Regions from separate parts of the Homo sapiens genome. Here regions 1, 2, 3 and 4 are each reported to be linked to region 5. The links are microRNA targets in miRTarBase. Many come from high-throughput screens and were not tested one by one. Region 5 holds a microRNA gene; each other region holds the end of a gene's coding sequence.
The links. Region 5 holds the annotated microRNA hsa-miR-4651 (CGGGGUGGGUGAGGUCGGGC, at 2,714-2,733, shown strand). A microRNA usually pairs through its seed, bases 2 to 8, with sites in the 3' UTR of a target mRNA and lowers its output. Matches are read on the target gene's strand: a 7mer-m8 pairs with bases 2 to 8, a 7mer-A1 pairs with bases 2 to 7 and ends in A, and an 8mer does both.

Region 1: the mRNA of SLFN12 is a reported target of hsa-miR-4651. The part of its 3' UTR that is shown has no 7-base or 8-base seed match.
Region 2: the mRNA of USH1G is a reported target of hsa-miR-4651. Seed matches in the 3' UTR shown: 7mer-m8 at 1,343-1,349, 8mer at 1,449-1,456, 7mer-A1 at 2,427-2,433 and 7mer-m8 at 2,752-2,758.
Region 3: miRTarBase lists CHERP as a target of hsa-miR-4651. Seed matches in the 3' UTR shown: 7mer-A1 at 1,197-1,203.
Region 4: miRTarBase lists DCX as a target of hsa-miR-4651. Seed matches in the 3' UTR shown: 7mer-m8 at 1,579-1,585.

Annotation. Positions count from the first base shown.
Region 1 is chr17:35,407,129-35,412,229 of GRCh38, forward strand. SLFN12 (schlafen family member 12) reads right to left here. Exons shown (of 4, transcript NM_018042.5): 4 at 3,794-4,799. The coding sequence ends at 4,210. It also overlaps the pseudogene LOC729839. Among named protein-coding and RNA genes, the nearest start is that of SLFN12, 23 kb to the right of the region's middle. RefSeq lists a silencer at 923-1,136.
Region 2 is chr17:74,913,936-74,919,036 of GRCh38, reverse strand. USH1G (USH1 protein network component sans) reads left to right here. Exons shown (of 3, transcript NM_173477.5): 3 at 961-2,954. The coding sequence ends at 964. Among named protein-coding and RNA genes, the nearest start is that of USH1G, 6.8 kb to the left of the region's middle.
Region 3 is chr19:16,514,849-16,519,949 of GRCh38, reverse strand. It overlaps CHERP (calcium homeostasis endoplasmic reticulum protein), which reads left to right. Exons shown (of 17, transcript NM_006387.6): 16 at 235-329; 17 at 598-2,056. The coding sequence ends at 791. C19orf44 (chromosome 19 open reading frame 44) reads right to left here. Exons shown (of 9, transcript NM_032207.4): 8 at 2,609-2,720. The coding sequence ends at 2,649. Among named protein-coding and RNA genes, the nearest start is that of C19orf44, 21 kb to the right of the region's middle.
Region 4 is chrX:111,297,530-111,302,630 of GRCh38, forward strand. DCX (doublecortin) reads right to left here. Exons shown (of 7, transcript NM_001195553.2): 7 at 1-4,214. The coding sequence ends at 4,158. Among named protein-coding and RNA genes, the nearest start is that of CAPN6, 30 kb to the left of the region's middle.
Region 5 is chr7:75,912,493-75,917,593 of GRCh38, forward strand. MIR4651 (microRNA 4651) reads left to right here and starts at 2,705; the gene lies at 2,705-2,777. It overlaps POR (cytochrome p450 oxidoreductase), which reads left to right and starts at 2,663. Exons shown (of 16, transcript NM_001395413.1): 1 at 2,663-2,687. LOC124901680 (a long non-coding RNA gene) reads left to right here and starts at 49. Exons shown (of 2, transcript XR_007060393.1): 1 at 49-247; 2 at 1,804-2,002. RefSeq lists an enhancer at 2,071-2,120 and a silencer at 2,381-2,870.

The DNA.
Region 1 (5,101 bases), not on the chromosome of region 5:
ATTTTTCTCCAAGATGGAAAGAGCAACAGGTGCACACTCCAGTGTAGAAAGACATCTATTAATTGGCTGTATCCGAATTACATACTGACTAGAAATGCTCGTTTTTAACTGCACCTGTTTGGGGGTGTCAGAACAAGGAATTCTTACAGAAAATGTCCTTAGCCTGGCTCCGTGTACCATCAATGACGATGATTGTAGAAGGATAAACAGGAGAATCTAATATAAATTCTTCCAGATTAGCAGCTTCTTATATTAGCCCCTGGATATAACATTAATGTACCAAACTTCCGGCAAACAGTTGAAAGTTCAGGATCTCTTTCTTCACTGAAGCGACGACCAGTCTTCACTTTGCGCTTGTCCTGGGGGAGGCATGCTGCTGGTAGAGGAACTGTCCGCAACATTTTGTCTTCCTCTGCTGGATGCTGAATTATGCACAAGTAGGTAGAGATATGCAAAGGGTGCGCTGGGAGAAATGGACAAAAACACACTTTCTGAGGCCGGCTTGCAGCGGCTGCACGCAGGCCTCAGCTCCTCGGCTCCACCTGCAGCTCCCACAGCCCGCCCGCACTAGCGTCGTCCGCCTCTGTTCCCAGGGCAGCCGTCGCCAGCACTGCGCCGCCCTCCCGCTGCTCCTTGTAGTTTGGCGTCTGAGACCTTGAGGCCCCAGGCGGTCGCGCGACGGGGTCGCGCCTCTTTCTGCGACTCCATGGCGGACACTCTGGTCAGGCCTTCGATATAATATTTCAATATAGACTTAAGGAATAGATTGTATGTGTACATATAGATATGGATATAACATAAGTAACTAAATTAAAACAAATGTCCATAATTTGGCCCAATTAGAAATCCAGAATGTATATACCAAAGAATTTATATTACAAAAAGATAAAAGGACATTGATTAGATTTTTTGTCTCTACAACATAAGGTCTAAATTAACTTTAGCATTTGCTAAAATATACCAGCTGACATACTTCATGGACTCAATCAATACTGGGGCTCCAATTATACTTGGAGTGGGCCGTGGTGGCTTACACCTGTAATCCAAGCACTTTGGGAAGCCGAGGCGAGTGGATCACCTGAGGTCAGGAGTTCAAAACCAGCCTGGCCAACATGGTGAAACCCTGTCTCTACTAAAAATACAAAAATTAGCCAGGCATGGTGGCAGGTGCCTGTAATCCCAGCTACTCGGGAGGCTGAGTCAGGAGAATCACTTGAACCCGGGAAGCGGAGGTTGCCGTGAGCCAAGATAGCATCATTGCACTCCAGCCCGGGCAACAAGAGCGAAACTCCTTCTCAAAAAAATACATATTATACTTGGGGTTCTCATTAAATTTAAATATTGTATGCCCTCTAATCTTAAAAAGGTAACTAAAGTTAAAAAATATTTTGGATAACTATCCCTCACTTTACTGCTTTGGTTGAATTTCCCATAGTTTTGTACCCATTGCTTTAAAGTATCTCTTATTGGACACAGACTCTCTGACACAACAAATAATAAACTAAAGTTAAAATTTTGGCACTTAAAAAATGGCTTGATAAAATGGGACCCTATAAATCCCTCTTTAAAATAGTTAATATGGCACAATTTAAGTTAGAATAGGCCCTTCAAGGATTAAGACTTGTTATATAGAACCTCATTATGAAAGGGGATAATTATCCCCACTGCTTCTCATTAAACAGCTCAATTTTGCCTATTCGAGCCCTTTGGGAGGCCAAGATGGGAGGACTGCTTAACCCCAGGAGTTGAGACCGGCCTGAGCAACGTAGTGATACCCTATCTCTACAAAAATTTTAAAAATTAGCCAGGTGAGTTGGTGGTGTCTGTAGTCCTAGCTACTCAGGAGGCTTAGGTGAGAGAATCTTTTGAGCCCATGTGTTCAGTGATGCAGTAAGCTATGATCACACCACTGCAATCCAGCCCAGCCAACAGAGCAAGACCTTGTCCCTAAAAAAAAAAATAAAATAATAAAAAGTAATGGAGATTATTGCCTTCTCCTGGAGGTAGTTGTTTCCTATTAGTCAACTCCTTGACCCACTCGCTCCCCAGTGCCCTCCCCTACCACTCCCTGAAGCTTCCCCCCGCCGACCTCTTGTCTTACATCTCTGACCATGACCACCCCTTCCCCTTGGTTATACACACATACACGAATGTACACATACATTATTAATGTATCAGCCACACTGTTCAACAATATGACTGCCAGACCTGCCACTTTGATATATATATAATTCAGACTTTTAATCCACTTTACAACTCCACCAAGATTATACTAAAGACCCCCCAAAATTTCAGATCTACTTTCTTGACTAATGATGCACACATGAAAAACTTACTGATGGGCCAGATTGCAAGGACTCCTCGTATATCCACTTGTGTTCTTCCTTCTTACTCTCATAGTAAACATTTTCTAGGCTGTTTAGGTGAGCTTATGCCTCACTCTCTAAATACGTCCACTATTACTACCCCAGGTTTCTTGCAATGATGCCAAATAGGCACGGGGCCAATGACTCTTATTGTGTTTTCTTATATTCTGTATTTGTCTATTTGGCATCCAGGCACCTGGAGGCTTCATCAAAGTTCACATTTTCTTTTGCTGATGTTTCAATTTATCCTACAAAACTATGTTCCATGTAGATCTGGCCCATCTTGAGGCTGCTGTTTCTGCATTCATCCTCCCATGGTCACATTTCTTGGCCAACAGAACCACAGAAACTGGTCTGCCATGAGTTAACGTTTAGTCCAAATCATTTTTCCACTTTGGCTCTGCTTCAAATGGGGCTGGGCTGGTGATACTGAAGACAATCAATGCACCTATGAATTCCAGACAATGGGCTCTTGTCATTTTCCCAATCTTTCCTCATCGCAATGTTCCACAGCTGCAGTTGTGCCAAGGCCTCTGAGTCCCAGTGGAGCTCCTTCAGTGCACAGTTCACACAATGGTGAACTGGCTTGGAGATGCCAAGAGGAGTTCTGGTGCACACAGTGTGTGATGATGATGGCCTTGCCTGTGCCCAGGTCACCCATACCGGCAGCTGGTACAGGCTGACACACTGTGCTGGCCACAGTTCAGGGCTGGAGAGAGACTCCAGGAGTGCAAGTATGCTCTCGTTTTAGGTTCTTCATTTTGATTCATCTCTTCATTGGCTGGATTTCATTGTAACATAGTTTTCAAGAAGGTAGAAGAGAACTACGTTCCGTTCCCTATATCCTTTGATAAGAATGTCTGCCTATTTCCTTTATAGTCAAACATCATCTCGTTTGGCAAAATATGTGTTAGTAAAACTTTTCTCAGAATACTGAATGCATTGATCGACTTCCTCTGGCATTGGACACAGTGGTGGAGAAGGCTGAGGCCCTGATGGGTAATTTAGGCTCTATTCTCTGTTCCAAGATCCCACTGAAGGTCTTAGGCATGAATTCAGAACACCCAGCCAAGGGTGTATCCCACTCTGCTGAGCTTCATCTTGGTCCCTTAGCTCATCTTAGATGAGTGGGAAATGCCAGACCCTGGTGCTCCTTCCTCTTGTTGATGAAAACTCTCGTTGTCTAAAAGAGTTTCTACTTATACCTTGGCTGCTTTCCTTCAAATCTTAGTTAGAGAGGATTTTCCATATTTTGTCATCTCACGCTTCTTTATTCAGAACTGCTTGTAGAAAAATAAAGTAACCATTCTTGTGAGTTCTTTAAAGGTGCTAGCTGACCAGTTAGGAAATCCACAACCCTTCCAAGTAAATAGTGTGAAAGTAGCTCAAGAAGATCCAGAGAATTCCTGGAGTTTTGTTTTGAGAAAATGAGTTTTGCCTTCTTATTCATTCCCACTGTGGAAATTCTGAGTTTCATCAAGGATAATCTTTTGTAAGTTATAATTGTTTTCTAGGTATATGCTGGGAGATTTTCACTGTTGTCATTAAGAATAAAAGTGTTGCAATTTTCCCAGTTCAAGCATGGAAGAAAATTTATTCAGGAACTACAGACAGAGTAAATAATACTGTGCACAGACGAGTTAACAAATTAATTTTCCTAATATCCCTCAAACAATATCTGTGAAGATTATTTAGGGAGAAGTGAAAATAGACAAAACCCAATTATCCAACATCACATTAAGTTGCTTAACTTGCAAAGTTTTCAAAGAAATATTTTCACAGAATTAGAGAATGTTATCAAATATATAATGAAAAATATCTCAGTAGCCCAGTCCATTTTCCATCAGGTGAGCCTTCGACAAGATTTAAACATCTTTTTATCATTCTTCTGAAAGCAATCTATACCGATTATCTGGTATAGATTTTCTGCAAAGGAAAACTGGTCTCTCAGAGACTTGAGTCTCTTTAAGGCTTTAAAAAGGGCTTTCAGCAAGTATTTCCTTCTTGTAAAATAGTAGGATTCAGGGTAAATTACTTGCGACCTTAAATCATACTGGCAGCTTGTCATGCCTTCAGGGCTCAAGTAGAAGATCTTTGTCATGACACACACTTTTTTAGTGTAACCACCAATTTTTGCCAGCTTCTGCTTTAAGGTTAGGGCAGTTTGTGTAGAATAGCCTTTAAACTCCTCATCCTGTACCATGTGGAAGGTGTATAGGACTGGAGGACTGTCCTGGGAAATCAGAAGAGCATCACAGAGGACTTTGTGGTTCTCTTGCAAGCCCAGATCCACAGACCAGCTCCTAGAGAAGATCAGTGAGCCCTTTCTGACAGAGTCCATTTCTTCACATATTAATTGCTTAAGTCCTTCATGTTGTAAGAACAGTTTTCTGCAAAGGTTTTCTGGAGTATACGTTATCCTTCCTGATAGCCCTGAATAAGGAAATAATAATAATAAATTATAAAACACTAGGAAGTTCCCATTTAAGCCATGGCAAAGTAGCTTGTAAAAAACCAATCTTCCCATCAAAAACACTGTAAAAGTTGTATAAAATATATTCAAACAATAATTTAAAGAACTAGAAAGCACCAATAAAAGCAGTATTTGAAGTGCCACAGTCTTTGATAGAGGTGAAACACAGAAAGTAGCTTCACATTCACCCCTGCTTTTTCCCTAAGTAGATTTTCTATATCATGGCATGGGTAAATAGAACCCAAGGAGAAATCATCAGTCT
Region 2 (5,101 bases), not on the chromosome of region 5:
GGATTATATCGTTCCCATTTTACAGCCAATGAGCAAGTGGAGGCTCAGACAGTTAGAATAGCTCACCTCAAGGTCCTGCTGCTGCTCAGCATGGAGCTAGGCTTGATCCCTGGTCTGCATGGCTTTAGAGCCTGGGGTCAAGGTGGCTGCCATGGGATGCAGGGCGTGCAGTCAGCAGGGCCTCTCAATTGCCCAAGACCTCAGGCAGATTTTTTTTTTTTTTTTTTTGAGACAGTTTCCCTCTTGTCATCCAGGCTGGAGTGCAGTGGCACAATCACTGTAACCTCCACCTCCCGGGTTCAAGCGATTCTCCTGCCTCAGCCTCCTGAGTAGCTGGGATTACAGGAGTGCACCACCATGCCCAGCTAATTTCTGTATTTTTAGTAGAGATGGGGTTTTGCCATGTTGGCCAGGCTGGTCTCGAACTCCTGACCTCAAGTGATCTGCCCACTCTGGCCTCCCAAAGTGCTGGGATTACAGGCGTGAGCCACCGCGCCTGGCCTTAGGGAGATGTTTTACCTACTGTTCCTGAACTTTGCAATCAGGAACGTGGGCAAATGCTCCCAAGAGGGTCAGCAGCAGCCCTGGAGGCAGAGTTCATGTTCCAAAGGCCGTCATAGTTGCCCAAGGCTGCCACCACAATGGTCATGCTGTGGCCAGCCCCTGCCCTGGCCCCTCCCCAATGGCATCCCACAGGCCCAACAAACTTTGTCCTCATTTCCTCTTAGGTATCTATGGCCGTTATCCTGAATGGCTGGGGCAGGGATGGGTGTGGGGAGGCAGGCTGGTTCAGAGTTTTGGGGATGGGGAGGTCACCCATAGGCTGGCGTCCCCCATCCCTGACAATTGGCCTGCCGAGAGATGGGGAGGCTAAGTTGTCCAGATGGCTGCCCTGGGTGAAAATGATGCCTCTGGAGGGCCTCATGTGAGATCTGTTTCTTTCTGTCTCTTCCTCCACAGATAACCGGGGGCTCCTCTCCCCAGACCAAAATGAATTGCAAGTTGCCACAACCTATGGTGGGGTCTCGAGGTCCTCACAGTTGCCAGCCCTGCAGCCCCCTTCCCCAGGAGCAAGGACCAGTTGGGGCGACTCCTTTGAAAGTCTGTCTGCACCTTGAAGCTGAGGGTGTGGCCTGGAGGCACCAGAGGGGCAAGAGAATGTTCCGGAACTCCAGTTCTGAGGGGTCTTGAAGGCCCTGAGCCACCCATTCTGAGCAGCCGTAAAGGACATGTAGACTTGGGGGAGGCCTGCCCCAGAGGGAGGGCAGGGGCATCGGAACTGGATGAGAGTGTGGGAGGTGGATGCGGGAGGGTGCACCTGTCCCGGGCGCCGTGGCCTCTCCCACCCCTCCCCTGATGGTCTTGTTCTCTTGTGCTCAGGCCAGAGACTTGCTCACTTCCTGCATTGTTGTGAAGGGAAGAGTTTGGGCTGCCTCCCCTCCTCCCGTCCACCCCAGAGGGGAAGTTCCTCAGCCAGACTCTTCAGCCAAATGCCCCAACTTTCAGTCTGTACCCCATCCCAAGCATAGCCAGCTCCCCCTCCTTCACCTAGTGGTCAAGGCCCGGAGCTGGAAAGCCGGGTTGGGGTGGGGTGGGGGTACTGACGCCCTTCCCAGCTCATCCAGGGGTGGAGCCTGGCCTGTCTTCCTCCAACCTCCCCCTTTTTCGTTGTGCAGCCTGGCCCCCCAGGGACCCCAGAGGGCCAGGGCGCTAGATGCAAGGTGCTAGACCAATGGGCTGCAGTATTATAGCCCCCAGGCCTGGCAGGCATGCGCTGGGCTAGAGAAAGGTGTCCGCCAACCTCCTCAGTCTCCCAGGCCTGGGACAGGCAGAACAGGGTGTGGCTGGGTGTCAGGCCTGGGGTGGGTAAGTCCTGCGATGTGGACACTGGAGAAAGTGGATCCTCTAAACTGCAGATTGTCCCCAGGTCACCAGGGCTGTGTGCGTGTGCATGTTTGTGTGCATGTATGCGTGTGTGCATGCATGTGTGTGTAAGTATGTGGTATGTGTGAGCACGGGTGTGTGCTTGGGTGTGTGTGTTCTTGCATACATGTGTGCGTGTGTGTGCACGTGAACGCGTGCGTGTTTGTGTGTGTGCATGCATGTGTGTGCATGTGTGTGTGTGCATGCATGTGTGTGTGTGTGCATGTGTGCGTGTGTGCACACTCACGTTGGGTGGTGTTTGGTAGGTTTCCCTCCAGGTCTGGTAGGGACTGGGCTGTTGCGTGATTCTGCGTGGATCGGGGGTAAGAGAGCTCACCTGTGTCCCAGCCCTCTGATGGTGGTGAGACCAGGGGAAAGGCCAGCTCAGAGGGTGGTCACAGCATGTGTCCTCTGACGTATGCCCCCAAAGCTCTCCAGCCAGACTGAGGTCACAGATGTGGGAGAGTCCCTGATGAGCCCGCTGACACGTGTGCGCCCCTTTGCACCCCATGCAGAGGTGCTCTCCTCCTTTCTCAGCCATGGCCCCCCATCCCTGACCTCAGCTTGGGAAGCAGCTCCTGCTGGGAGCATGGCCTCAGCCCCCAGCATCTCCTGGGGCCCCCATGGCTGGGGCAGGGGAAAGAGAGCCCTCAAAGGCCTCTTTCTGGTCTGTCTGGGGGTTCCCATTCCCACACATGTGCCCAGAGTAGGGGGCATGGAGGAGATGGTCCCTGTCCTACTGCAGGACACTGAGGGCTTGGCTGCCTGCCACCGCCATCTGGAGCCCACCACAGCTCTTCTCCCTGTTCTCTGGGCCTGAGCCTGGGGCCACCCCCAAGTGCCGACTTGTTTCTCCCAGAGCCCCAGGTGCTGCCCCTTCTCTCCTGTTCCTCGTCCGTTTACTGCCGCAGCCCCTCCTGGTTCTTCTGGTGCTGGGGTGGAGCAGGCTCTGTGCTCCCACCACTGTACCCCGAATCCCTCCTGCAGGCTCATTGCCACTTTTGTAGAGAATGTTCTCTATCAGTATCGTACCTGTCTTGTCCTTTAATGCTTTGGGGATAGAGTGAAGAGTGGAAGGGTGGGGGTGGGGGCGGGAGGGGGTCTGCTCTGCGCTTGTGAGGACTGGGTCCTATTCTCTGGAGTGTCTTCGAGACCCCATGCTGTGCATCTTTGCAGGGATCCCTAGGCCTTTACCTGCTCTCCTAGCTCAGCCCAGAATTAGGAGCTGGTGGAGAGGCAGGGCTGAGAACTAGGGCAGGAGAGTCCCCCTGAGCAAGGAGGATGGCTGAGCCTCCAGGCTTGTTGCCAGGGCCTGCAGCTACGGAGGGCAGGAGGATGCATGTTCTCTCTTCCCACCAGTGCCTACCTGGGTTTTTCCAGAGATGGGCAGAAACATACTCCAGGAGGCTGCTGCCTGTCACCTGGGCTCTGGGCCTCTGGAGGGGTCTCCATGAGGGCCCTCCAGAGGCCCAGAGGGGTCTCCATGTCCCTCATCACCGCAGGCAGCTCGTGGGCAGCCTGATTTGAAGCCCTGCTTTCTCCCAGGGGTGAGTCTCCTCCATAAGCTGGTGCCTAGTGGGCTCTGTTTTCTCAGTCAGGTCTGAGGAAGGGCCCTGGAGTCATCTTGCTCCATTGCCTAAGCTGCTGGGCCAGTTTCTTCTGCCAAAGGGAGTTCAAGACAGTTCCCTTCCCTCAGCATCAATCAGAAAGGTCCCCAGGATGTTGGTGCAGGAAGGTTGCCTAGCAACCATCCAGGGGTTCCAAGCCACCTCCCTCCACTTTACAGATGGAAAAACTGAGGCCCACAGAGGGGAAGAGTCAGACCCAGAACGCGGGTCTCTGGCTGCTGCCATGCTCTCCTCACACTCAGGCTGCCAAGGGCGCTAACACAACAGGATTCCACCAGCCATGCCCTGGGGGCGCACCTCCCTGCGGCTTCTTTGGCCATCCTGGTCACTGCACCCACCTCAGGAAAGACTCACTGGTCCTTGCCGCGATGGTCCAGAAGAGGACACGGGTGAGGAATGACAAGACAGAGAGCCGAGGGGCACTTTGGCATCCCAGCAGAGATGAACCAGAGGCAGCAGGATGAGGGGCTCCATGGGTCAGTGTGGCTCCAGGGCAGAAGCCTGGGGTGCCAGGAGCAGGAGCTGCTCCAGGGAGCCTGTGGGGATGTTCAACACAAGCAAAGAGGAGAAAATATTACATGGTAGGGGCTCAACTTTCATGACTCATTTCCCTAAAGATTTAGATCAAGAATAGGGACATTTACGAGGTCAGGAGATCGAAACCATCCTGGCTAACATGGTGAAACTCTGTCTCTACTAAAAATACAAAAAATTAGCCTGACGTGGTGGTGGGCGCCTGTAGTCCCAGCTACTTGGGAGGCTGAGGCAGGAGAATGGTGTGAACCCGGGAGGCAGAGCTTGCAGTGAGCCGAGATTGCGCCACTGCACTCCAGCCTGGGCGACAGAGCGAGACTCCGTCTCAAAAAAAAAAAAAAAAAAAAAAAGGGACGTTTTAGCACTTTGGGAGGTAGAGGTGAGTGGATTGTTTGAACCCAGAAGTTCCAGACCAGCCTGGGCAACGTGGCAAGACCCTATCTCTACAAAACATTTAAAAATTAACCTGGTTGGTGGTGTGCACTTGTGGTCCCAGTGTATGCGAAATTGGTGGGTTCTTGGTCTCACTGACTTAAAGAACGAAGCTGCAGACCCTCACGGTAAGTGTTACAATTCTTAAAGGCAGCATGTCCGGAGTTTGTTCCTTCTGATGTTCGGATGTGTTTGGAGTTTCTTCCTTCTGGTGGGTTCGTGGTCTCGCTGGCTTCAGGAGTGAAGCTGCAGACCTTCGCGGTGAGTGTTACAGCTCTTAAGGTGGTGCATCTGGAGTTGTTTTTTCCTCCCGTCCAGAGTCGTTCATTCCTCCCGGTGGGTTCATGGTCTCGCTGGCCTCAGGAGTGAAGCTGCAGACCTTCGCAGTGAGTGTTACAGCTCATAAAGGCGGTGCAGACCCAAAGAGTGAGAAGCAGCAAGATTTATTGCAAATAGTGAAAGAACAAAGCTTCCACAGTGTGGAAGGGGACCCCAGCGGGTTACCAGTGCTGCTTGGACAGCCTGCTTTTATTCCTTTATCTGGCCCCACCCACATCCTGCTGATTGGTCCATTTCACAGAGAG
Region 3 (5,101 bases), not on the chromosome of region 5:
CCATCTGGGTTGGAGGTGTCCTGCTCTCAATGCTGAGCGTGGGGTGGGGGCCAGCGTCTGGAGCCCCCTTATCTAGCTGAGACAGGATAAACGGGTAGAGACGCAAAATCTGCATACGGTGTCACCTGGTGACAGTGAGCATGCACGCAAGCTGCGGCTGTGAGGTCCTCATCACTGTCATTCCAATAAATGTCTCAGTTACTTCTTAAAAAGAATAACCTGTCTCGATTTTAGTTCCTCTGCTGGTCTGGGTTCTAATTCGGCGCCTCCCATCCCTGACTCAAGGCTCGGAGAAGAGAACAAAGGCCATCAGATGCTGGTGAAGATGGGTAAGGCGAGGGAATGGGGAGGGCGCGGGATGGGTCCTCACGCGTGCTGGGCCCGGGAGTCACCAGCGCTTTCTCTTCCTCAGTGCATGTGGGGATGGATGGAGTCAGGCCGGTTCTGACTCCACCCAGACCCTCTAGACAGGGCCGGCCTGCGGGTTCTCTCTACCCATTTCCCATGTCTACACTGCCTGTCTGGACATTCAGCCCCCCACGTGCACCCCCATCTGCCTCCGCCTTGTTGTGGTTGTGACTGCGTCTCTGTTTCCAGGCTGGAGCGGCTCAGGCGGCCTCGGTGCGAAGGAGCAAGGGATCCAGGACCCCATCAAGGGCGGGGACGTCCGGGATAAGTGGGACCAGTATAAAGGCGTGGGCGTGGCTCTGGATGACCCCTATGAGAACTACCGCAGGAACAAGAGCTACTCCTTCATCGCCCGCATGAAGGCCAGGGACGAGTGTAAGTAGGCGCCCATGCCGGGAGCCGCGCCGGTGGCCAGCGGTGCCGGCTGTGGGACCTTCCTGGCTGACTGGCAGAGGAAGATTGCAGTGACAGCTCAGTTCTTACACCGTCTCCACTTGTGGAGAGCCACAGGAAGAGAAGGAAGACCAGCGCATGCCCAGTGGGAACGCCGTGCTCCATGGCGTGGAGGGCACGGGTGCCACCCACAAACCACACCAGGAGGCGCTGCAGCCACCAGGGCCCCAGGCTCGTTTTCCTTTATAGCGAAGCAAAAAACACAAGACCCTCCGCCCGAGTAAATTCTTCAGCCACGAAGGGATGGATGTGCATCTGCCCTAAGTCAGATTGAAGCCTCCTCCTAGGCTCCAGGAGGAGCATGTGCAGGAAGGGTTGGCCTGAGCCAGAGCCGGCACCCCAGCTCCTTCCTCCAGCTCCCCGCACCCACCGGCCCTGACCTGGCTTCCCCTCGGCTGTGTAGGGACAAAGCCGAAGCCCAGTGCCATGACTGCCCGCGGATTGAAAAACAGAAACACAAAACTTTGACTTGACTTGCGAAGTGAAGCAGGGTTTTCATTTTTACTCTCCTTGGTTTAGGTCTAGAAAGAAGAATACTGACCTGAGAGGAGGCCCAGTGAGATTCTGAAACCTAATTCTTCGAAGGCGTACTGGCCCTTAGTTCAGTTATTTTAGTTGTATAAGTTGATATTTTTTTTCTGGAATGTAGCCATTTGCTGTTATCTGGGAAACAAGATTCTAACAGGAAACCAGCCTAAGACACTTCAGGTTGAGCGCTGCCTCGGAGTCTGTGCCCGTCGCGTCCCCTGCTTGAGTTTTGCACTTGGAAGAACCCTGCACCGGCTGGCGTGTGCGACGGCCCAGTCCCATCCAGAGCATGGAGCCCGACCCCAGCCAGCGCCTTCCACTCCATCATTTCATTTCACACCCCCGAAGGGAGGGGAGGCCAGGAGGGGAGCTGCTCCTGCCAGAAGCTGGTGGGTGACCGTTGGGAATCGGCCACACCTGGTGTCCATGGGCAGCCTGGTGCAATTCCATTCATTTGTACAGAAACATTTTTGAAAAATTCTTTTCAATAAGATGCAAAATCTTCCAACTTTTCAACCCAACGTGATGAATATTTGATTTTGTTCTAGATTTCCTGTAGCTGTGAATTGTTAAAATGTATGATTCAGGATAAAACGTAAACACGTGCTGTTAGTAATTTCTTGTGGATTTCATTGTTTTGCCTTCAAATAAAGCCTTTTTTTAAAGACCTTTCTCCCGCACATGTGTAAGTCAGAAGTGTGCACGGGCTGAGTGAGGAGACACATGTCCTGGTTTGAGCTGTGCAGCCTGGGGTCAGAGGCCGTGTCCAGGGGCTCACATGGCGTCCCCAGCGTGCTGACCTGGTCCCATGTCCTTACCCTCGAGCAGGGCTTCTCCCATCCACCCTGTCTCCCTCTGGCTCACTGGGATGCCAGGACCTGCCTGGGTGGAGCTGCTCTGCAGAGGCTGGTGGCCCCTGTCCTGCTGTGAGTGGGGACAGCTCCACTGAAATTCTATTTCCACTGGCCTGTGGTGTCATAGAGCTGGGCATGCTGCTGGGAGAGCTGTCACTGAGCTGGGATTTGGCTCAGAGGAGTCTGGGGCCCTCACCGCAGCACCACCTGCCCCACCATGGAATGTCACACCTGGATGCTGACTGTGTGTGTGTGTGTCCATCACCCCAGTACCACCTGCCCCCACCACGGAACGTCACACTTGGACACTGATGAGCTCTATGTTTGTGTGCGTGTGTGTGCACTGAGTACACAGGACGGGATACCTTTTGTTAAGACGTCACGTCAAGCTCCACCTGCTGGCGCTCACAGCTCCTTGTTCACCTCCTCCAGGGCATCCTCCATGGTCAGTGGGGCAGGTCTGTGGCACCTAATGTACTGTCAGGCAGAGAACAGACCACGCCATCACCATCGTCACCTCAGTACACTCTGAGACAGGGTGCTGGAGGAGGGAGTGGAGCCAGCACCTGTCCCCAGCAGGCTCCTGTCAGTGACAGAAGTGTAAAACCACAGGATGTGTGTGACAGGTTGGCGCACGGGGCTGTGGGAACACAGGGTAGAGGGTCAGCCCTGCGAGGGGTGAGCCCTGACAGAGAAAGGGAGGGGTGCCTGTGAGTGCCCTTGGAGTGGCTGAGATCAGGGAGAAGCGCCTGGAGCAAGCAGCTGGGAGCTATGGTGGGCTGCAGCCAGGTGGCACAGTCAGATGGCTTCTGCCTGCATCGGATGGGCTGATGGACGCCCAACAGAGGCATGAGTTCAAAGCCCCCAGAGGGCTGCAATGAGCAAAGTTGACATTGTAGAGACCCGTGGGACTCACAACCTGCCCTCTTCAGCAGATAAACCACAAGGAAACGAGAGGCCTGGCATGCAGGGGACTCGGCACAGTTCCAAAGCAGCGTCCCGGGGCATGTGGGAGAAACGCCTAGCTCCAGGCCCACCCCGCCTGCTTGCGGGCCCAGCATCGCTTTCACAGGGCTTCCAGGGGATCCCCAACCGCTCAGCATTGAGAACCGGTCGCTGCTCTAGATTAAGAGGCTCAAAGGACATATCGGATAGTATGGACTTTGGATCCGAATTACCAAATCGGAACAAAACACACAACTTTAAATCAGACAAGCAGAAATCTCAACACTGGATATTCCTTGATACTTAGTAAATTTGGTTTGTGTATTATTGCATTATGGTTGTTTGTTTGAGACAGAGTCCCGCTTTCTCCCTCACTACAGCCTCAACCTCCCCAGCTCAAGTGATCCTCCCACCTCAGCCTCCCAGAGAGCTGGGACTACGGGCACACACCACTATGCTAAACTTAAACTAGTTTTCTTGTATTTTTTAATAGAGATGGAGTCTTGCTATGTTGCCCAGGCTGGTCATGAACTCCTGGGCTCAAGCGACCCACCCTGCCTCAGCTTCCCAAAGTGCTGGGATTACAGGAATGAACCACCACACCTGGCTTTAACATCACTTTTTAGAAATAAACACTGAAAAATTTGTTATGTAAAATGTTTAAAGCAGGGGGCGGTGGCTCACGCCTATAATCCCAGCACTTTGGGAGGCCGAGGCAGGTGGATCACCTGTGGTCGGGAGTTCAAGACCAGCCTGACCAACATGGAGAAACCCTGTCTCTACTAAAGATATGAAAAATTAGCTGGGCATGGTGGTTCGCACCTGTAATCACAGCTACTCAGGAAGGTGAGGTAAGAGAATCACTTGAACCCAGGAGGCGGAGGTTGCAGTGAGCTGAGATTGCACCATTGCACCCCAGCCTGGGCAACAAGAGTGAAACTCAGTCTCAAAAGAAAAAAAAAAGTTTATGAATAGATCACCATAAAGGACTGCATATAGTATAATGCCATTTCTATAAAGAAATACGTGGCCAGGCATGGTGGCTCGCACCTGTAATCCCAAAAATTAGCTGGGCATGGTGGCAGGCACCTGTAATCCCAGCTACTTGAGAGGCTGAGGTAGAAGAATCGCTTGATCCCAGGAAGCGAAGGCTGCAGTGAGCTGAGATCACACCACTGCATTCCAGCCTGGGCAACAAGAGCAAAACTCCGTCAAAAAAAAATTTTAAAAAAAAGAAATACGCATACTATGGTTCATACAAGAGTCTGAAGGAGTATATATATCAGCTTGGTAATAGTTACCTCTGAAATTAAGGAGAACTTGCAGGTTACACATCTCTGCAACAAGATTTTCAGAAAACAGCCACGTAATTTTTGGTAATCAGATTTTAAAAAGTTTTTTTGAGACGGAGTCTTGCTCGTCACCCGAGCTGGAGTGCAGTGGCACGATCTCAGCTCACTACAACCTCCACCTCCCAGGTTCAAGCGACTCTCCTGCCTCAGCCTCCTGAGTAGCTGGGACTACAGGCGCCCGTCACCATCCTGGCTAATTTTTGTATTTTTAGTAGAGATGGGGCTTCACCACGTTGGCCGGGCTGGTCTCAAACGCCTGACCTCAAGTGATCCACCCATCACAGCCTCCCAAAGCACCAGGTGTGAGCCACGGCACCTGGCTGGTAATCAGATAAAAATTCTTAGAGGGTAAAAAAAGAGGTGAGGGTGATTGCTGAGGAGAACAGCTGGGCCGCCTCTGGCCCCATCTCGGGGATGTCTCAGGAGGCTCAGGGAAAGGGACAGGACCCCTCCCATGGGAGAAAACAGTGCCACGAACAGTAGGTCCCTTTAGTCTGAGGTCACACAGCCCAGGCGGGGCTGGCTGCAAGGTGCAGGAGCTCAGCACCCCACCCTGTACCA
Region 4 (5,101 bases), not on the chromosome of region 5:
ATCTCAGGGTTCCTTGCCTTCTTCAAATAGCTACACATCCACTTTCAGGTTCCTTGGTTACTTGTGACTGTGGAGGAGAAGGAGGAAGGAGAGAGAAGTACCTGAGGAGTGGGGTAAGCCCAGAAGGAGGTCTCTTAGAACTGAACTAATAAATACCCCCTTAGTTCCCAGGAAGAGCCTTGCAGCAAGGAAAACCATGTGTTTGGACCCTTTTGCCCTGGTTTCTGCTGTGGAAGGCCACAGGAGCAGTGTACACAAGACGATGGGAAGAGTGTATAGAGCACACAGCTTGCTATTTTGGTGCAAACACAGGAGCCAATGTTTAACATCAGCCAGGGTACATTTTTGTCACAAAGCCCCTTGCTTATACCTGGAAATTGTCCTCATCAGAGCAGGATGGCTTTGGGGACATTGTGGATGAGGGCAACCACAGTGAGACCAGGTTATTTTCTCTAGCTCATCTTACTCCCATATTCTAAAAGAAATCATTGCCAGTGAATGGTAGCCACACTAGTTTTTTTAAAATGTTGAAAAGCCATCTCAGAAAGTTAGGATGAACAAAGCTATTGTTCCACTCTTTCTTTTTCTACTCTGGAAACAAGAAACATTTCCCTCAGCCTGGAAAGACCAACCATTATGAGATGACACAAGGTGAACTGATGGAGAAAATCAATCTTCCTCCATTCCATTTGGGCAAGGCAAGCATTCAGTGGGGGGCTATTCAGAGGGCTCCTCACGATGGAGCAGTGATCTCCTGAATCAGATGGACAAGGCCAGGGACCCCATTGCTCCTATTGGCCCTCAATGCCTCACTCTCTTCAAGGACATCTGCAACCCATGTGGATGGGAACCAGGTGAATGCAGGGAAAAGGGGCTGTATTAGGTTGCTGGGTGGATTTCCCACTGAGATCAGGGCAGCAGCATGTGGCTCCAAGATGCAACATGACCCTGAGAAATAACTCTCAGGAGCCTAATGGAAGGCAATACTACTTAGTGGGAAAAGGCCCTGGAATAAGAGCCAGGAGATGTGGGTTGTAAACCCAATCCTGCCCCAGCCAGCTGTGTGACCTTGGGGAAATTACTTTACCTCTGTGTCTCGGTTTCCTGGCCTGAAGAATGAGAAATTTGGAGTAGAGGAGTAGATGATGTGATCTTAAGGTTCCTTCCAGCTAGAAAACGCTATAATTCAATCTAGGCTAATACTAAAGTCCATAAGGACACAAAGCAGTCATGCTAATGGCTATCCTTTCCAAAACAGTGAAGAGAAAAGGAGCTTTTCTCTCAATTTACCCCTAGTTAATACTACTTATGAAGTTAGTTGTTCAGCCCAGCCCCAATATATACATTTTCCCCTTCTTTGTCCCTATTTCTATTTCTGTAGGGAAGAAAAATCAGGAGGTAGGAACAAGCAAGAGATGGATTGTGTGTGTGTGTGTGTGTGTGTGTGTAAGAAGGAGGGAGAAGTATAGGGAGTGGTGGCAAATGCTTGCTGACTTGATGTTTGTTGACCGTGCAGAAATTAACACAATGGAACTTGAGTGCTAAAATTGGATTGGGTAAAATTGGAAGTGAATGACAGGGGTGGAGGAGCTCAGTTACAGACACACAAAAAAAATTGCCTTGAAAGTGGGCCAATTTAAAATGCAATTAATTATTGGAGACTTAAATTTTGGACTATGCCAAGCCTCATCCCCTGCTCCCTCCAAAATGGCCATAAAGAAACATTTCCTTATACTCGATTAAAAGTAAGATGGAAGATGTACTATTGTTATTGAAGATTGTTGGTTCAAAGGTTATCCTAAAGAAAATATATCCATTTGGTATTTTCTAGTAGTACATATACCGCAATCAAGGAAATACTCAGAGAGCTAGTGTGAGGCCCAAGCATAAGGAAATCTGGATTCTTCCTCTGGTCCTGCTCTTTACCAGCCTCCACTTCCTCAACTTAAAATAAAGGTGATGGACTAAATGAGACCTAAAGTGAGACTATGGGTGGAGTCATTGGGGGTTCTGGCCTGAAGTTTAAAATCAGGCCTCCCACCATTCTTTATGCCCACACCCCCTAATCCAAGTATCACTTTTTCCCAATTAACTACAAAATGTTCTGGGAGGCACTAAGAAAACCCTGAGCTTCTAGAAAGAAATAGGGGCTTAGTAAAATGGGCTTATTAATGGTTTTGAATGGGTCTACAAAAAAAGGAGAGGGGGCAAAAAGAGATCCTCATCATTTGGGGTTCTTCAATTTCACCAGAAACCAGTACTACCATCATCTCACTTTTCCTGAACCGAAAATGTTTCTGGTAGCTACAGACATCTGAAGCTTGTCTAGGGGCATCTGAGCTACCCCACCACCACTGGGTTCCCCCCTACACAGTGCACATCAGCAGTGCCACCCAGTTGCCACCAATCCATTACAGGGGTGTCCTGTAGTATTTCCTAATTTTGAAGCAGCTGCAGATGCACACACACACACACACATGCACCACCCCCTCCCACCACCACCACACACACACACAGCAAGCTCATTCCATTTAGAGTGGAGGAACAACTGCAAGCCATTCAGTAGCCAAACAGCAGCTTGGCTTCGAATGCTGTGCCTTTCAAAATATCTGCACAATTACAAAGAAATAAGGAAATCTTCATATCTGCTAAAAGCAAACACAGAATTGGCATGCATGACCTTCACTTAAATTTAGTTGTCTTTGCCATTATGGGCTATGATTACAGAAAAAAAAAAGCAGTGTTATAAACCTGTATCTCAAAAGACTGAAAACTATTTCAAATGATCAGTCCTTAGTAAAGAGAAATCCTTTCTAATGTTAAAGACAAGTGAAAGATTTCTGTGTCTTCAGTATGAAATATTAGGATTATAGATAAAAAGAGTTGCTTAAAATATGCTGTAACATTTCATTTAAAATATAATTAGAATGTCTGGTCCACATTGAAATTATTAATGCAAGCATAACTGTTAAAAAGCTATCAAAAAACTGATTCTATTGAATTGGCCTCTGCTATTCATCTTGTTTTCTCCTGGAGGTTACTGTTTGGCAGTGACAGCATAATTTCTAAACTACATTATTCTTCTGCTTTTTTTTTTTTTTTTGGTAAATTTTCTTCATGTGTTTTTTAGACAAAAGAAAAATCACCAGTTTATAAAAAAGGAGCCTGAAGAGTTTGCTCCTGAAATACAGACATGAATTTTTATAAAAAGGATATTGATTTCTTGCTATAAAAAGAGACTGAAAGGTGTCAGACCTGAAAACAAATTCTCACAGTGTTTTCAGTGTTGGCTGTTAACAAGGCATTCAATAGAACAGAGATAGATGGATACCATACAGTTCATGTAATCATGTGGTATGTTAGACAGCCTTCTAGAGGAATCAGGTATATGAAGTCCCTTACTCCAAACTATTATCAATTGCTTATTGATTCCAAATTGCCTCAGTGGAGAGATTGACCAGGAATTCACTGTGCTTTATAAACTCTTCGGAAATGTCTGCAGTATTTTCCAATTCTGTCTATTCTCTTAGCTAACCCAGCACCAGGATCCTAAGCATCTGGTGTCACAATTATAAGTTGTTGGTTTATTTCTCCCCATTGACAGCCAGAATTGGTGCTGGACAACAAACCCGGGCCTCAATCAGGAGTGAAGAGTGAGGCTGGGGAGCTGCCTTGCTGTCCTTCCAGGGTCCTCCACCATTCTTGAGATCCAGAGAAAAGGGGCACTTGTGTTTGTCATTCTTGGATCTGCCAATGAGTTTTTTTTTTCCCACACAAACATTTTAAGTGCTGTATATGTAAACAGCCCTCTACAGAAGGAAGACTGTATGGGCAAAATTAGACAGGGCAAATATAACGCAGGCACCTAAGCTTTCCATTGAAAGGTCATGGACTAGCACATTTTGCATCCCTGGAATGCTGCCCCAAAGGATGGTTATCAATCTATCTCTCATAATTGGTAACTGTGGATCAGTGGCCCAGAGGAGAAATCACAGGAAAATAAACCCAACATATTACAATGTGTTTTTCAAAATAACAACAACAACAAAATAAAAACTTGAAAGCACCAATAGCCCTGTTGGACACTTGAGCAGAAGTACCCTACTACAATGATAGGCTTGGATTTGTACTCTGGACTCTGAGCACTCTCCCCTCCTTTACATGGAATCACCAAGCGAGTCCGAGTCATCCAAGGACAGAGGCAGGTACAGGTCCTATAAGAAGAGAAGAGACAAAGTTAATTTTCCTTTTCTTGATATCTTGAGCTCTGGAATGTCTGCTTTAGTTTTTTTTATTAATACTTTAATTTTTACAACATAATAATTATAGATTCACAGGAAGTTGAAAAAATGTACAGGGAGGTACCCTTGTACCAATGTACCCTTCATTCAATTTTCCCTAATGGTACCATCTTGCAGTTTAACATGTGATCATTTGTGTGTGGGGTGTGTATGTGTGTGTGTGTATATTCCTATGCAATTTTATCATGTGTGTATATTTGTGTGACCATCGCCACAGTCAAGATACAGAACTGTACCTTCAACACAAGGCTCCCTTGTGCTACCCCATTAGAGCTCCATCCAACCCTCCCCTCTTCCCTGAGCCCTGGCAACAAATAATCTGTTTCCTGTCTCTGTAATTTTGGAATTTCAACAATGTTATATGAATGAAACCATACAGTATATAACCATTTGGGATTGGCCATTTTCATTCAGCATAATTCCCCGGAGACTCATGTAAGCCATTATATGTATCAATAGTTTGCTTCTTTATATTGCTGGTGTAGATGCACCACAGTTTGTTTAGCCATTCACCTGTTGAAGCACACGTTGAATGATTCAAGTTTTGGGCTATTGCAAATAAAGCTGCCATAAACGCTCCTGTACTGTACAAGTTTTTGTGTGATCATACATTTTCATTTCTCTGGGACAGACACCCAGGAGTAAAATTGCTGAGTCATATGGTAATTCCATTTTCAGTTTTGTAAGGAATGCCATATTGCTTTCCAGTGTGGCTATACCATTTACAGTCTCACCTCCTGCCAGCAAAGTATTAGTAGTTTGGTTTCTCCACATTCTCTCCAGTATTTGATGTTTTTATT
Region 5 (5,101 bases):
AATCGCTTGAACTCAGGAGGCAGAGGTTGCAGTGAGCTGAGATGGTGCCCCTGCACTGCAGCCTGGGTGACACAGTGAGACTCCATCCCCCCCAAAAAAGTCAGGAAGCTGCTGAGATCATCCAGGTGAACGGTGAACCCACGTGGCCCCAACTGGAACAGGGACAGCAGAAAAGATGACAAGAGGAGGTTCTGGAGATAGAATCCATAGGACCCAGTTATTGGTTCAATGGGAAAAGGCCAAAGAGGTAAAATGCCTGTTTCCTGATGTTTCCTTAGTGATGCTATATTATTAGCAGACAGAGAAGACTCAGTGTTTTAGGAGTTCTGGTTTCAAAAAAAGCAGGGGGCATGGAGTCAAAGTCCAAATTTGAAGCCTCACTGGGACATCCTGGGGAGATGTCCAACAGGGTGTTGAAAAGATGGCACAGAGTATCAGATATCTGGGTGAATTTCTCCACAGCTCTCTCTCTGGGTGAGTGTGGAGTTCAGTCCCTTCTTTGGACAGGTATTGTGCCCCACCCTGAGGGCTACTGCATTCATCCAACCTGTTGGAGGGACTGGTTCCTGGACATAGGAAACCTGGCACCTGGGCCATGGTAATAATCTCTTTATATAGGATTTTGCTATTTTCACAATATTTTAAAGATGAAGAGTGGATGGGAATGGTGGCTCACATCTGTAATTCCTGCACTTTGGGAGGCCGAGGCAAGGGATCCCTTGAGGCCAGGAGTTCAAGACCAGGTTGGGCAACATAGCGAGACTCTGTCTCTACAAAAAATTTAAAAATTAGGCTAGGTGCAGTGCTCACACCTGTAATCTCAGCACTTTGGGAGGCCAAGGTGGGAGGACTGCTTGAGGTCTGGAGTTTGAGACCAGCCTGGGAAACATGGCAAAACACCATCTCTACAAAAAAATTTCAATCAACTTTCTTTAAAATGAAAAATAAAAATACAAAAATTAGCCAGTTGTGGTGGCGCATGCCTGTAATTCCAGCTACTAGGGAGGCTGAGGCAGGAGGATCACCTGAGCCCAGGAGGTCGAGGCTGCATCCCAGCCTCAGCGACAAAGGGAGACCCTGTTTCAAAAAATAAGTAACATATATGTTATTATATAATATATATTATTTATATAATATATAAATATAACAAATATAACATTTATATAATATATAAATGTTATATTTATGTATTATTTTATAAATTAACTTTTTTTTTTTTGTGAGACGGAGTGTCACTCTGTCGGCCACACTGGAGTGCAGTGGTGTGAACTGGGCTCACTGCAACCTCTGCCTCCGGGGTTCAAGTGGGTCTCCTGCCTCAGTCTCCCCAGTAGGTGGGATTACAGGCACCCGCCACCATGCCCAGCTAATTTTTGTATTTTTAGTAGAGACGGGGTTTTGCCATGTTGGTCAGGCTGGTCTCGAACTCCTGACCTCAGGTGATCCGCCCACCTCAGCCTACCAAAGTTCTGGGATTACAGGCGTGAGCCACCGTGCCTGGGCTATTTTTAAAAGATGGAGAAGGGGCTCTGAGAGAAGTGAGTTGCACAGTGTTGCAAAAGGAATTCACAGCACAGCTAGTAATAATAGTAGTAGTAGTAATAATAACAATGGCGATGAGAACACTTAGTAATGCCGTGCTCTAAATCCTTTAGGAACAAAGGTTATACCACTTAATCTTCATGACCCTGTAAAGTAGAAACCATAGCAGGAGGCAGAGGTGGGCTTCACTCCCCAACCAAGGCTGCCAGACTTTTCAAACCCCAGAAGCTCTCTGTATCCCCCCACTCCTCTTCCATCCAGGGCTTGCCTCCTGCTTGGTCACTTCCCACCCCCAACAGGCCGGCCTTCAAAAGCGAGCTCTAGGCAGCGTGTGGGACCTCACGCCTGTAATCGCAGCGCTTTGAGAGGCCGAGGAGGGAGGATCACTTGAGACCAGTTCGAGACCAACCTGGGCATCATAGCGAGACCGCATCTCTGCAAATAAAATAAAATAAAATTAGCTAGGTGTGGTGGCGCGCCTGTAGTCCCAGCTACTGGGAGGCTGAAGTGGGAGAATCGCCTGAGCACAGGAGTTGAAGGCTGCAGTGAGCTGTGACTGCACCACTGCAATCCAGCCTGGGCGACAGAACGAGACCCTGTCTCTAAAAACAAACGCGCGCCCTCCGCCGTCAGGCTGGATGGAGGGAACCCAGGGAGACGACTTGGGCCTGAAGCCTCGCCAATTTCAGGTGAGGAAACAGGGCCGTGGAGGAGACAATGTGGCGATCACAAGCAAGCGGCGGCCCGAAGGAGGAGGCTAGACCGGCGGGCGCACAGCCACAGTTCTGCAGTGATCCCCGGGAAGGTGGGCAGCCGGCCCGGTGACCTGCAGGGTCCGAGCTGTAGAAGCCGCAGCCGCCGTCTCCAGGCGACTCCGCCACCCCCGGAACCACGCACTTTCATTTCTCTGCCGGGCGACCCAGCCGAGCCGCGAGGGGGCGTGGCCGGGCCGGGCCGTACCAAGAGCGCAAATTTGCAGGGGGAAGCGCGGGGCTCCGGGAATGCACGCGCGGCTCGAGTGGGCGGGGCGGCGGCCCAATGGCCACGCCCCCACCCCCGCGGCCGGCGAAGGCGGTGGTAGCGCCTCAGTGGTGTGGGCCTGAGCCCTGCCCAGGTGCCCGCAGAGAGCAGCCGGGCTGCCAGCGGTGAGTGCTATCTTTCGCGGCGACGGCGGGGTGGGTGAGGTCGGGCCCCAAGACTCGGGGTTTGCCGGGCGCCTCAGTTCACCGCGGCCGCCTGGCTCTCTGCGTCGGGGTGGGCCCTCGGGCCTGGGCACTGCGCGTCTGGCCCGACGCTCGGGCGGAAGGCATGGCTCCCACCCCGGCCCTCCTCCGCGTCGCCCTTCCCCTAGAGCTGATCTCCCGCGGCGGCCTGAGGGTCGACTTTTCCACAGCTTGGGCCGAGAGAGCCCGGCAGGCCCTCGGCTGAGGGTTAGGGCTCGGTATCTCAGGGCTCGGGGTCCAGTCCCCGCGCCGCCGCCCCCCACGGGCTAAGCCACTTTAACTCTCCGAGCCTCAGTTTCCCCATCTGTACGATGAATGGGCCTCGGGAGGCAGCGAATTCTGGGGGTACCTAACGTGAGAGGCGCTCGATGCATGCTCATGGGACCCGAATCTAACCCTGCAGCATCAGGTGGGCTGAGTCGATGGATCACGGGAGCCCCCCAGCCCGGCCTGCATCCCTGAGGGCAGTGCCCCTCGCAGTCAGGTGTCTCGGCGGCCCCCACAACACAGGTACCCGGATCTCCTGGGGGAGCCGGGACACCCTTAGATCGGGGGAGCAATTGGGTAAGAGTTCAAGGTCTCTTGGGCGCCAGGGGGAGGAGAGTAGAGGTTTCAGTGAGCTTGATTGACTTCGACTTTCTGCGTATTGTTTTTCAAAACGAGTTACCCTTGTGTAAACTGGTGACCACTAATAAGGAGTTTGGGGCTGTTTCAATGAAAGTGGCTGTCTCCTCTCTTAAACCCTTAAAGCTGCAGCCTTGCCTTGCCTTGCCTCTGAGCTTGGCCAAGCTGGAGAATGATGCCAGCACAAAAGGAGACAGGACTGGACTGGGTGGCCCTGGTTTGATTCTTGGCAAGCAAGATACCTCCTGGAGCCTCCGTTTTCTGATCAGTGGGTCTGGTAGTAAGACAGCCACCCTGCTCTCCCCACAGGGTTGAGATTCTGAGGATCAAGACAGGGTCCCAGAGAGTGGCATCGAGAACTTTAATCCTCCTTGTAAGCAGAACGTTTATGGAACCCTCTGGGGGATCCAGTATCCCCACCGTTGTTCACTGCTGTAATTCCTTGGGTCTTGCTTTATGGAGAAGGCATTGATTCATTAACCATTTGCAAGTTCTACCTACGGAAATCCCTTTTGAGTGGTTATGGGGTTGGCTTGGTCAGGAGAACAGCTCCAAAGGCCCAGTTAGTAAACCAGGGAACCCAGAAAGGTCCACTTCCTTTTTTTTGGGAGGAGGGCTGTTTTAGGAGTTCTTATTTTCCTTTTAAGAGAGTGGTTTTTGAGCTACTTATGACCTTCATGCCATCTAATGTTGGAAACTTTCGCTGAGCAGATAGCTTATTATAAAAAGTATTTGTACAACATCCGCATTTCAGAGAATGGGATGCTAGCTGCCAGTTGCGTGGTGGTGTGGAAACTTAGGAGTGATCTTAATTTTCCAAAATTCTTCAGGTCTAGCACTTGAAGAAATAATAGGTAGATTTGAAATGAAACAACCCAGGGATATTCCTGAAAACAGCAGCATTGACCGCAGCCAATGTAAATCAGGTGTGGATCGTCCTGGGTAGTAGGAGTTTATAAATGCCACAGAGGATGTTTGCTGCCAGACATACCTGAATTTTAGGACCTGCTGTTGGTTAACTCTGGGTTGATCCACCCTTAACCCCTTGAAAATCAGAATCTGTGTTAGGTAAGTCTGTGTATGATTAGGAGACAGGCCAATTGAAATCAAAACTGCTTGGCAAATCCAGAACATTTACTCGTGAAGTCCATGGAACATTTCAAGTTAAAAATAATTTAGCTTTTAAGTAACTTTTTTTTTTTTGTGAGACAGGTCTCACTCTGTCGTGCAGGCTGGAGTGCAGTGGCGCAATCATAGCTCACTGCAGCCTCAACCTCCAGGATTCAAGCAATCCTCCCTCCTCAGCCTCCCAAGTAGTTGGGAGTACAGGCACGCACCACCACACCCAGCTAATTTTTTAAATGTTTTTTAGAGATTTGGTTTGCCATGTTGCCCAGGCTGGTCTCGAATTCTGGGGTTCAAGTGGTCCTCCTGCTTTGACCTCCTAAAGTGCTGAGATTACAGGTGTGAGCCACCGTTCCTGGCTTTCTTATTTCTTCTTCTTTTTTTTTTTTTTTTTTCTGATGGAAGCTCTTGAAGTTATAGGACCTTTCATGGTTCCAGAGAGGCTGGCCGCCCCTACAAGAGCTTCGATGTCCTTGTGCTTTAGGGAGGAGCCAGAGAAACAGAGGTCAAGCTCTGGCACTAGCACCGTGTGTGGCCTCAATTGAGCATGTTGGGATTTAACTTTCTGTTATATGTCAGACTCACTT